3 separate regions of the Homo sapiens genome follow, and all the other regions are linked to region 1. The links come from fine-mapping of genetic effects on gene expression. A gene starts in region 1. Each other region holds a variant in brackets. All regions are shown on one strand. Distances are from middle to middle.

Region 1 (2,756 bases):
CGACAGAGCTAGACTCCGTCTCAAAAAATAATAATAACAACAATAAAAAAGTTTTTAATCCTAGTATTGCTCTCTAAATATAAATGGAAACAAGCCCAAAACAGGAATCATATGCTCCAGCAAGTACATTTACTGTTTGTAGGTGTAAGGAAAAGGGGAAGAAAAGAGACTGAGGTTTTGGATAGTGCTTCACTATTTTCATAAGTTTAAAAGGTAGGTTCATGAAGTATCCACAAAGATAAAGCAGTTTAACCCAAGAATAGCTCACCCTCGGCAGTCTGTAACTTGGTGGGGGGCGGGGGGATGGGGAAAGCTATTCCTACTACTTTCTAGAGCAGCGGGAGAAAATAGCCTTAATAATCCAATTATGTTAATCAACAAAAACCAATTTCACAGACTGGCCGCAAACCTAGAGAAGGCACCTATCACAGCTACCATTCTACACAACTCTATTGCCTAACGCAGGAGAGGTGAGACACTTAGAATCTTTCTTACTTTCCTGACGTGGCTGGAGACTTGAAATTAACTTGCAAATTGAGCATTCTCTCTAATAAAAACTGCTCCCACACATGCCAGGGCCAAACCCGAGTAGTCTGAGGTCCCGGATCCCTCCAGTGGCGCAGCTTTCGGAAGCCTGTCTTGGGGGGGAAAAGTTCAGCAACGAAGTCGCAGGCTCTTAAACCTTTCTCCCCAATTCCTTCTCTCCGACGTTAAAGCGGTGGCCGGGGCAGGCCCGCGGAGGGCGGCCTGGAGAGCGATACGCCCGGGGCCTCCACCAGACCCCACTCCTTTCCGCGTCTCCCGATGCCTGGGAATCCGGGGCGGGTCTGAGAGGGCTGGGGCAAAAGGAACAGTCACCTTCGCGGCGAGAAAGAGGGTGGAGGCAGGAATTCGGGCCAGGCTCTCCCGGAGCTGGCCAGGACTGGCCGAGCCCGACCCCGCACTAACCCGCGAGAGAGGTAGGGCAGCGAGGGTCCGCCGCGGCCCCAGCGCCTACTGCTGGGGGAAGGGGCGGGGGCTCCGGAGCCGAGGGCCGAGCGGGGAGGAGGCAGAGGAGGAGGAGAGGGAGGCGGGGCGGGCAGGCCCGGCCCAGGAGCTGGGCGGCGCGACTCACCTCTGCTCCCGGCCTGCGGGGCCAGAGTAGCCAGGATCCCGCGCAGCTCCGACGCGGAGATCCGCACACGCTCCAGCCCTTCCGCCATCTTCGCGGCTGCTGCTACAGCCGTAGCGGCTCCGCCACCGCCGCGCGCAGCCAGGAAACCACCACAGACGGGCGGCGCGCGCGCTCGCCCACCTCCCGGCCTTTCCCCGCCCCCTGCCGCCCTCCCTTTCCGAACGACGGTGGCCGCGCTGGGAGGAAAAGCGCCCGCCGCCGGTTCCAGAGGGGCGGGACCGGAGCGAGAGCCTGGGTGGGGCGGGCGGGCGCTGCGCGTGCGCAGAGGTGCGGCCGGGGAGGCGCGCGGAGGCTGGAGCTGGAGGCGCGGCGCCGGTGAGCTGAGGTGAGGCGAGGCCGGGCCGTGCCAGGCCAGGCGGGCGTTTGCGGCGGTGGCTGCCGTTGCTGTTGTCGTGGACACCAAGGACACTGCTAGTCTGGGACTCGGGTTGACAGAGACACCCCTCAGCCTGGGCTCCTCTGGACACCTTAGGCCAGGCTCTCCCGCCACAGGCCCGGCCTAGCGCCGCGGGCCATTACTTGGGACCTTGAAGATCTGCTAAGAGTAGTTGTTACTATTCCCTTTTTTTTTTAGTTGGAGTCTCGCTCTGTTGGAGACTCCCGGGCTGGAGTGCAGTGGCGCGGTCTCGGCTCACTGCAACCTCTGCCTCCTGGATTCAAGCGATTCTCCTGCCTCAGCCTCCCTAGTAGCTGGGATTACAGGTGCACGCCACCAAGCCCGGCTAATTTTTGTATTTTTTGTAGAGACGGGGTTTCACTAGGCTGGTCTCGAACTCCTGACCTCAGGTGATCCACCCGCGTCGGCCTCCCAAAGTGCTGGGATTACAGGCGTGAGCCACCGCGCCCGGCCGCCCCCTGACTTTTAAAAACTAGATACGATATAGTTGGAATCGTGTGGAAGGAAGTACATCAGGAGGCATATAAGTCCATTTGGGACCTGTAATCCCGGCGACTCGGAACGCTGAGACGGGCGGATCGCTTGAACCCGGGAGGCGGAGACTGCAGTGAGCCGAGATCGCGCCACTGCACTCCAGCCCGGGAGTCTCCAACAGAGCGAGACTCCGCCTCAAAAAAAAAAAAAAGTCAATTTGGGAATTTCTGTGTCACTATGGATTCTTGAAAAAAATTACTGCTGTGGATCTCAGGTTGACTTTTTAATTTCCCATCTTTAAAATTGAACTATACCAGAAGGCTGGTACTTGAATCTTTTTTTGGAGAACTGTACAGAGGTGAAGCTCCCTTCCCCAAGGCCTCCTGCCTCCACCTGTTGCCCCTCCACAGCCCCATAGGCTTTTACCCCACACCCATCACAGAATAGTTACCAATTATTCCTTAGTCTGAGCCGAAGGGATTGCCACAACCTCTGACAGAACTCCTTCAGTTCCTTTTACGTGACACTTTGTCACCGGAAGGTTAAGCATAAGAAGAAAGTCAGTAGATGATGGGTGAAAAGATCCAACAGTTCAGAAGAGGAACCATTTGAGTGGTCAGAGCAGAAGACAGCCTTTGCCACCAGATTTGAGAGAAATAGGAAGAAGCGTTAAAAAATAATCTGTTTCATATTGAAATTTGAGAGGCCATT
Region 2 (2,756 bases), 81 kb before region 1:
GGAGGTGACTGCATCCTGGGGTGGTTTCTGATGGTTTAGCACCATCCTCCTGGTGCTATCTCCTGATGGAGCTCTCGGGACATCTGGTTGTTTTAAAGTCTGTAGCCCCTCCCCCTTCACTCTCTTCCTCCTGCTCCAGCCATGGAAGACGTGCCTCCTTCCTCTTTGCCTTCCACCATGATTGTGATTCTCCTGAGGCCTCCCTAGCCATGTTTCCTGTACAGCCTGTGGAACTATGAGCCAATTAAACTTCTTTTCTTTATAAATTACCCAGCCTCAGGTATGTCTTTATGGCAGTATGAGAAAGGATTAATACAACAGTAGATACCAAAGCACATTTAATGGATTTTACTTTAATGCCAGATGTAAAATATGCATTTGGAAATTATGCTTTCAAGAAAGTCACCTTAACAAAAAACAAGGAAAGACAGTAAGATTATGAGCAGTAACCTAGTTAACAGATGCCCCTGCCCTTGCCATTCAATCTTCATTGTCCAGGCTGACCTGCTGACAGATTATTCTTTTTTTTGAGACGGAGTCTTGCAATGTTGCCCAGGCTGGAGTGCAATGGGGTGATCTCGGCTCACTGCAAGCTCCACCTCCCGGGTTAACGCCAGTCTCCTGCCTCAGCCTCCCAAGTAGCTGGGATTACTACCATGCCTGGCTAATTTTTGTATTTTTTAGTAAAGACAGGGTTTCGCCATGTTGGCCAGGCTGGTCTTGAATTCCTGAGCTCAAGTGATCCACCTGCACTGGCCTCCCAAAGAGCTGGGATTACAGACGTCGGCCACGGCACCTGGCCTCAAATTATTCTTTGACTTGAACTTGATATAACGCATGTTTACTGAGAAGTTACAACAGGTCAGGGACTGTTTTAGATGTTCACAATGTATCAGTGGATAAAACAGACCAGAGACCCCTATAAGCAGGGAGCTTACATTCTTGCAGAATAGTAGAGGAAAATAAATAATAAACATATACACATTAATTATCTAGTATTTAGAAAATAAATCAATAGAATTGGAAGATAAAGAGTGCAGGTTTGGAGTAGAATGCAGCAGTGTTAAATAGGATGGTTGGGGCAGGTCTCACAGAAGTAACATTAAGCAAAGACTTATAGGAGGCGAGGTATTCACCAGACAGATGGCTGGATGCAGAACATTCCAAACAGAGAAAACAGCTAATGCGAAGGGCCAAAGGTGGGAGAGTCCCCAGCTTAGCAGAGAACTTGCAAGAAGGGTAGTGTGGCTGAAGCAGAGTAACCAAGCCATGGGGAGAACAGTCGTGAATGAGCTCAGAGAGAGGCAATGCGGGGGCGGGGGGGGGGGGGGGGGGCAGGAGAAGAGGTCCATATATGAAGGCCTTGTAAATAATGTGGCTTTTACACTGAGTGAAATGGGAAGTCAGTGAAGGATTTTGAACACAGCAGACTCTGTATGTAATGTGTCTGTGTGTGCATGTTTGGGAAGGAACGAG[A/G]GAGGTAAGGGGTACAAAAAGAGACCACTTAGGAGTTTCAAGACTTTCTTTCCAAGTTTAAAAAGAAGTTTTATCCACAAGGGGTATTCAGGCCATGTTTGCAAACACAGGTTTTCTCTTCCAATGAGGAATATTGAAGAATGTGTCAATGGCCTACAACTGTATCCCTAGCAGGCATCTGAAAAATAATACTTACGAAACATTTTCCTCTGCTCATTGCCCTGACATGAGTTCTGGGCATCACCCTCTCTCAGGGGAGAGGTGAAAAGAGGTTATGTGGAACAGACAGTGATAACAGGATGACGTCACAGGTGTGCCTCAAAGAAGTCCCTGGTGAGCTGGGCTCATAACTACTCTGCAGTGATTTATTCGACCCTGCCAGCTCCAGCTGGAGAAGAGATGCAGAAAGCTGACACAGCCTAAAGCCCTGGGCAGGCATTATAAGATCTTTCTCCCTGCAGTCCCCTGCCAGCTCCTCCCCTCTTTCAACCACTGATCCTTGCCTCAGAAGCCAAAGTGTGAACAGCACGTGTCCGGATTTCAGAAACCTGCCCAGCAGTTGGAAATTCCCTGCAGCGTGTCAACTGCTACATCTGCTGTTGGCACTTGGGGCAAAGGGATCACACGCGCATATTTTCTGAACATAAGCTTCAAGATATGAGTCTTATATTTGAAGAGGGGACTAAACAAGCCAGAACACTCCAATTACAGTAAATGCATTCCTAAATAGACGACAATCTGCCTTCTGAAAAGGAAACTGAGACATACAAGCAAACCGAATAGCACTAAGAACAGCAGTAGTCAAGAACAAAAGCACAGAGAACCCTGACTAATGGAAAGGATTTCATGGGCCAGCAAGGTTCACCAGATATATAATGTGATGTAGCTGAAACAACAGAGTACTCTTTTCCAAATCTCTAACTCACATCTTTTTGTCAATAAATGGCTCCTATCACTTCAGCTGCAGCCTTTCCTCTCCACTCCTTTGATCTTTCTTCCCCACCCAATTAGCCCTCTAAGTGATATTCTATACACTGGACACCTCTTGGAAAAATGAAAAAATGTGAGCCCAATGACACCATTTGCCATAAGACTGAGCTGTAAATGGGCAGGAGCTGGAAAAGAAACTAATCTTTGGAAGAGCAAACTACATGCCCTTGCCACCCTGGATGTAGGTGCCCAGTCACACTGCTCATGGGCATCACAGGCAGAGCAAAAAAAAAGAAAAGAAAAGAAAGAAAGTCTGAGTAAGTCTGATGGAACAAGGAAATCCCAGCTTC
Region 3 (2,756 bases), 240 kb before region 1:
GGTAGGCGGGCAAGGAGGGGTGAAGGGGGAGCTGAGGGGAGTCAGGACATTTCCTGAAGAGGAAGCTAGACGGAAAGAAAGGCCAGTGAGGAGAGAGGGAGCAGGTGGAGGCCACCCGAGAGCACGGGCCTGAGACCAGATGCCCCTTTCCTCTAGACTCATGACTGTCCACGGGGACGCAACTGGCGAAGTGTGAGGGACCCAGGTTGATAAGGGCAGGAAGAGGAGCAGCAGGAAGGGTGTGTGGTAAGTCTGGGGTGGATGGTAGAAGAGGTGGGGGCCCAGGGCTGCTGTTAGGGACATGCTGTCTAGAAGCCGACTTGGGTTCATGGGCGAGTCCAGGCCTCAGGGAGACTGGGGACACACACCCTGGGCACTTCTTCCTGACTTAACCAAAGCCTCTTGAACACATTCACGACAGAGGTTCTGAAGATGAAAGGGAACTGTGATTTCACTGCATCTGACGGAAACTCAGAACCCCTGCCCTGTCTCCACTGGAGAAAGTGGCTGCGTCCCCAGGCGAGAAGGCCCTCCCTCAGCCTTGGAATGAGACGGGGGAGGGAGAAAGGCTGAGAGCATGGGCGGCCTATCTGGCTTGCCCAGCTGCTGTTGCTGTAGCCAGCCACCTCCCTGCTAAATCCTGGCAGCCCAGGAGGGTCCCAGCAGCTTCCGCCCGATCCTTGGGAGGGGCTCTGTGAGGAGCAGGTCCCCCACAGCATGGCCGTGGCGTGGGTTGGAAGAGGATGGTTTATTGTCTGGGTGGATTGGTGGCTCAGGCACGTGGGCATCTTCCGTGCTACACTGGGCGCCTGGTGGCCTTTCAGGAACGGTTCCACGGGGGGGGGGCCCCAGTGTGGCTCCCTCAGCCCACCTGGGCCCACGTGAGGAAGGCTGGGATGTCCCGTACAGGAACATTCCTTGTGAGCGCCTTCACACGCAGGTTCCGGTCATCCGTCAACAGCACCACCTCCCGCAGTAGCCGGATTGGCTCCTCTGTGGGCATGAGAGAGCAGAAGGCTGTCACTGAGGACAGGAGGCAGAGGGCTGGCTGCTCTTCTCACCCTGGAGAATGTGGTCCTGGGGAGGGGGTGCCACGCTAGCCGTGTCTTGGCTCTTCTACCAGTCCTTTCCTCCGTCCGGGCTCTCAGCCCCGGGGACCCTCCCCTGCTGGCCTAGAGAGGGCTGCACTGGGCTTCTGCCTTGACTCCGGCCTCCCATACAGGACTCTCTTCTGCCTAGTTCCCAAAAGCTGCCCAAACCCGTCAGCCTCCCAGGACCCTAAACTGAGGGAATAGAAGCAGCCCCTTGACCTCTACTCCTTTTTACCACATGGCTGGCCCCCAGATCACAACACCGCTCTCCCCACACCC[C/T]ACTTTTTTTTTTTTAACAAGTCCTCTCCCTCTAAAAGCCAGCAGGTTGAAGCTTTACGCATCCAGAGGCAGAAAACTAAAGATGGAACAGAAAATGTATCCAGGGTTTTCCAGATGTGGGGAGAGGGGTTAAGGGAGCCCTGAGGAGAGGAGAGGGTAAGGGTCTTGGCAGAATTGTGCCAAGGGCACACCAAGGCTTTGGCCAACCGGTCGCCCCTGCTAAGTAACAGTAATCCATGTATACAGGCGAAAGTCTCTAAGAGGACAGAAGAGTAAAAAGGAAGAGTAGAGTTAAGATGATGATCCCAGTTCTCCGTCTTGTACCCCAGGGAAGACCTGTGTATCCTTCCAGGTTTCTTTAGGCACATTTACAAGTACATACACTTGGACATATAACCTTTTTTTCCTACAGCATCATGATCATATTAGCCACACTTTCAGAGTATATACTTAAAAGGTCTTGCTATAGTGGCACAGATATCTTTCATTCTTTTTAGATGACTTTTTTTTTTTTTAAGCACAGTCTCTCCACTACCTCTCTTTCCCTAACTCCCTAATCTTTAACACATTGGAGAGAATTTAAGCCAGGGACAAGCACTCACACAAGTGACATCCCTACCCTGACAGGCCTGCTTGGGTGGCAGGTCTACTCGTCAGTCCCAGGCTGGGCATTTCCTGACAGAGGTCCAGGTCCGGCAGACAGCAAGGCACAGGAAGTGTCCTGCTGTGCTCACTGACTGCGTGGGCTGGCGGGGGTGGGGGGCTGCAAATATCCATGTCGGACCTGAGCAGTCTCAGGCTTGCCAGCTCCAGGCAGGGAGGCTGAGAACTGGCTTTCAGCCTGGGGAGGAGTTTGGAGGATTCGGGAGGGAGAGGTTTGTGGGGTTGGTGGTGGCGAGAGAAGAGGACAGGAGGAAGGAGAGTGTGAAGGGAGGCAAGGGGCTGTGGGCAGAGGGGAAAGGAAGGTGGCCTCGGGTGAGGGGATACTCAGAGACTACTCAGCTGCCTGGGCCAGGCCCCTCTGCAGATAAGTGTGGCTGGGGTGGTGGTATGCAGGGCTGTGTGGGGCTCCCAGCTGACTGGCTGCGTCTGTAGCAGCCCCACTATTCCTGCCCTGGGCCTCAAACCAGGAGCGTCCCAGGCCTTAGGTCAGCTAACCAAGGCCCGACATTGCTGGCAGGGGTCTGCAGGGGTTTCTGTGGATACTTTGACATTTTTCACAATAAACATCCTCTGTTTTGACACTGGTAACTTCACTTTGTTAGAAACCAGAGACTGTCATCTTGTCAGGCCCCATCCGCCATAATCCACATGATTTTAAAATTCAACATCGTTTACACATAAACATTTAGTGACGGTTTCTCTGTGAATCTGACAAGTTAATCT

Alleles and levels. Alleles are on the strand shown, and positions count from the first base shown. SD is a standard deviation of normalised expression in the study named. Not every link is listed here.
As copies of T replace C in region 3, the expression in monocytes after LPS of the gene that starts at base 1,267 in region 1 goes up (large effect, 1.8 SD a copy in Quach 2016).

Evidence for each region. PIP is the estimated chance that this variant, and not a neighbour inherited with it, causes the effect.
Region 2: its variant is the best candidate, but not a certain one, in a credible set for the expression of SMG6 in whole blood (TOPMed, PIP 0.52).
Region 3: its variant is the best candidate, but not a certain one, in a credible set for the expression of SMG6 in monocytes after LPS (Quach 2016, PIP 0.84).

The regions. Positions count from the first base shown.
Region 1 is chr17:2,302,519-2,305,274 of GRCh38, forward strand. SMG6 (SMG6 nonsense mediated mRNA decay factor) reads right to left here and starts at 1,267. Exons shown (of 19, transcript NM_017575.5): 1 at 1,115-1,267. The coding sequence starts at 1,202. SRR (serine racemase) reads left to right here and starts at 1,432. Exons shown (of 8, transcript NM_021947.3): 1 at 1,432-1,499. RefSeq lists enhancers at 1-339, 669-1,395 and silencers at 897-1,106, 1,297-1,516.
Region 2 is chr17:2,221,233-2,223,988 of GRCh38, forward strand. All of the region lies in intron 10 of SMG6 (SMG6 nonsense mediated mRNA decay factor), which reads right to left. Among named protein-coding and RNA genes, the nearest start is that of SMG6, 81 kb to the right of the region's middle. The variant A/G (reference allele first, on the strand shown) is at 1,477.
Region 3 is chr17:2,060,630-2,063,385 of GRCh38, forward strand. HIC1 (HIC ZBTB transcriptional repressor 1) reads left to right here. Exons shown (of 2, transcript NM_006497.4): 2 at 1-2,612. It overlaps SMG6 (SMG6 nonsense mediated mRNA decay factor), which reads right to left. Exons shown (of 19, transcript NM_017575.5): 19 at 1-993. The coding sequence ends at 863. Among named protein-coding and RNA genes, the nearest start is that of HIC1, 6.9 kb to the left of the region's middle. The variant C/T (reference allele first, on the strand shown) is at 1,371.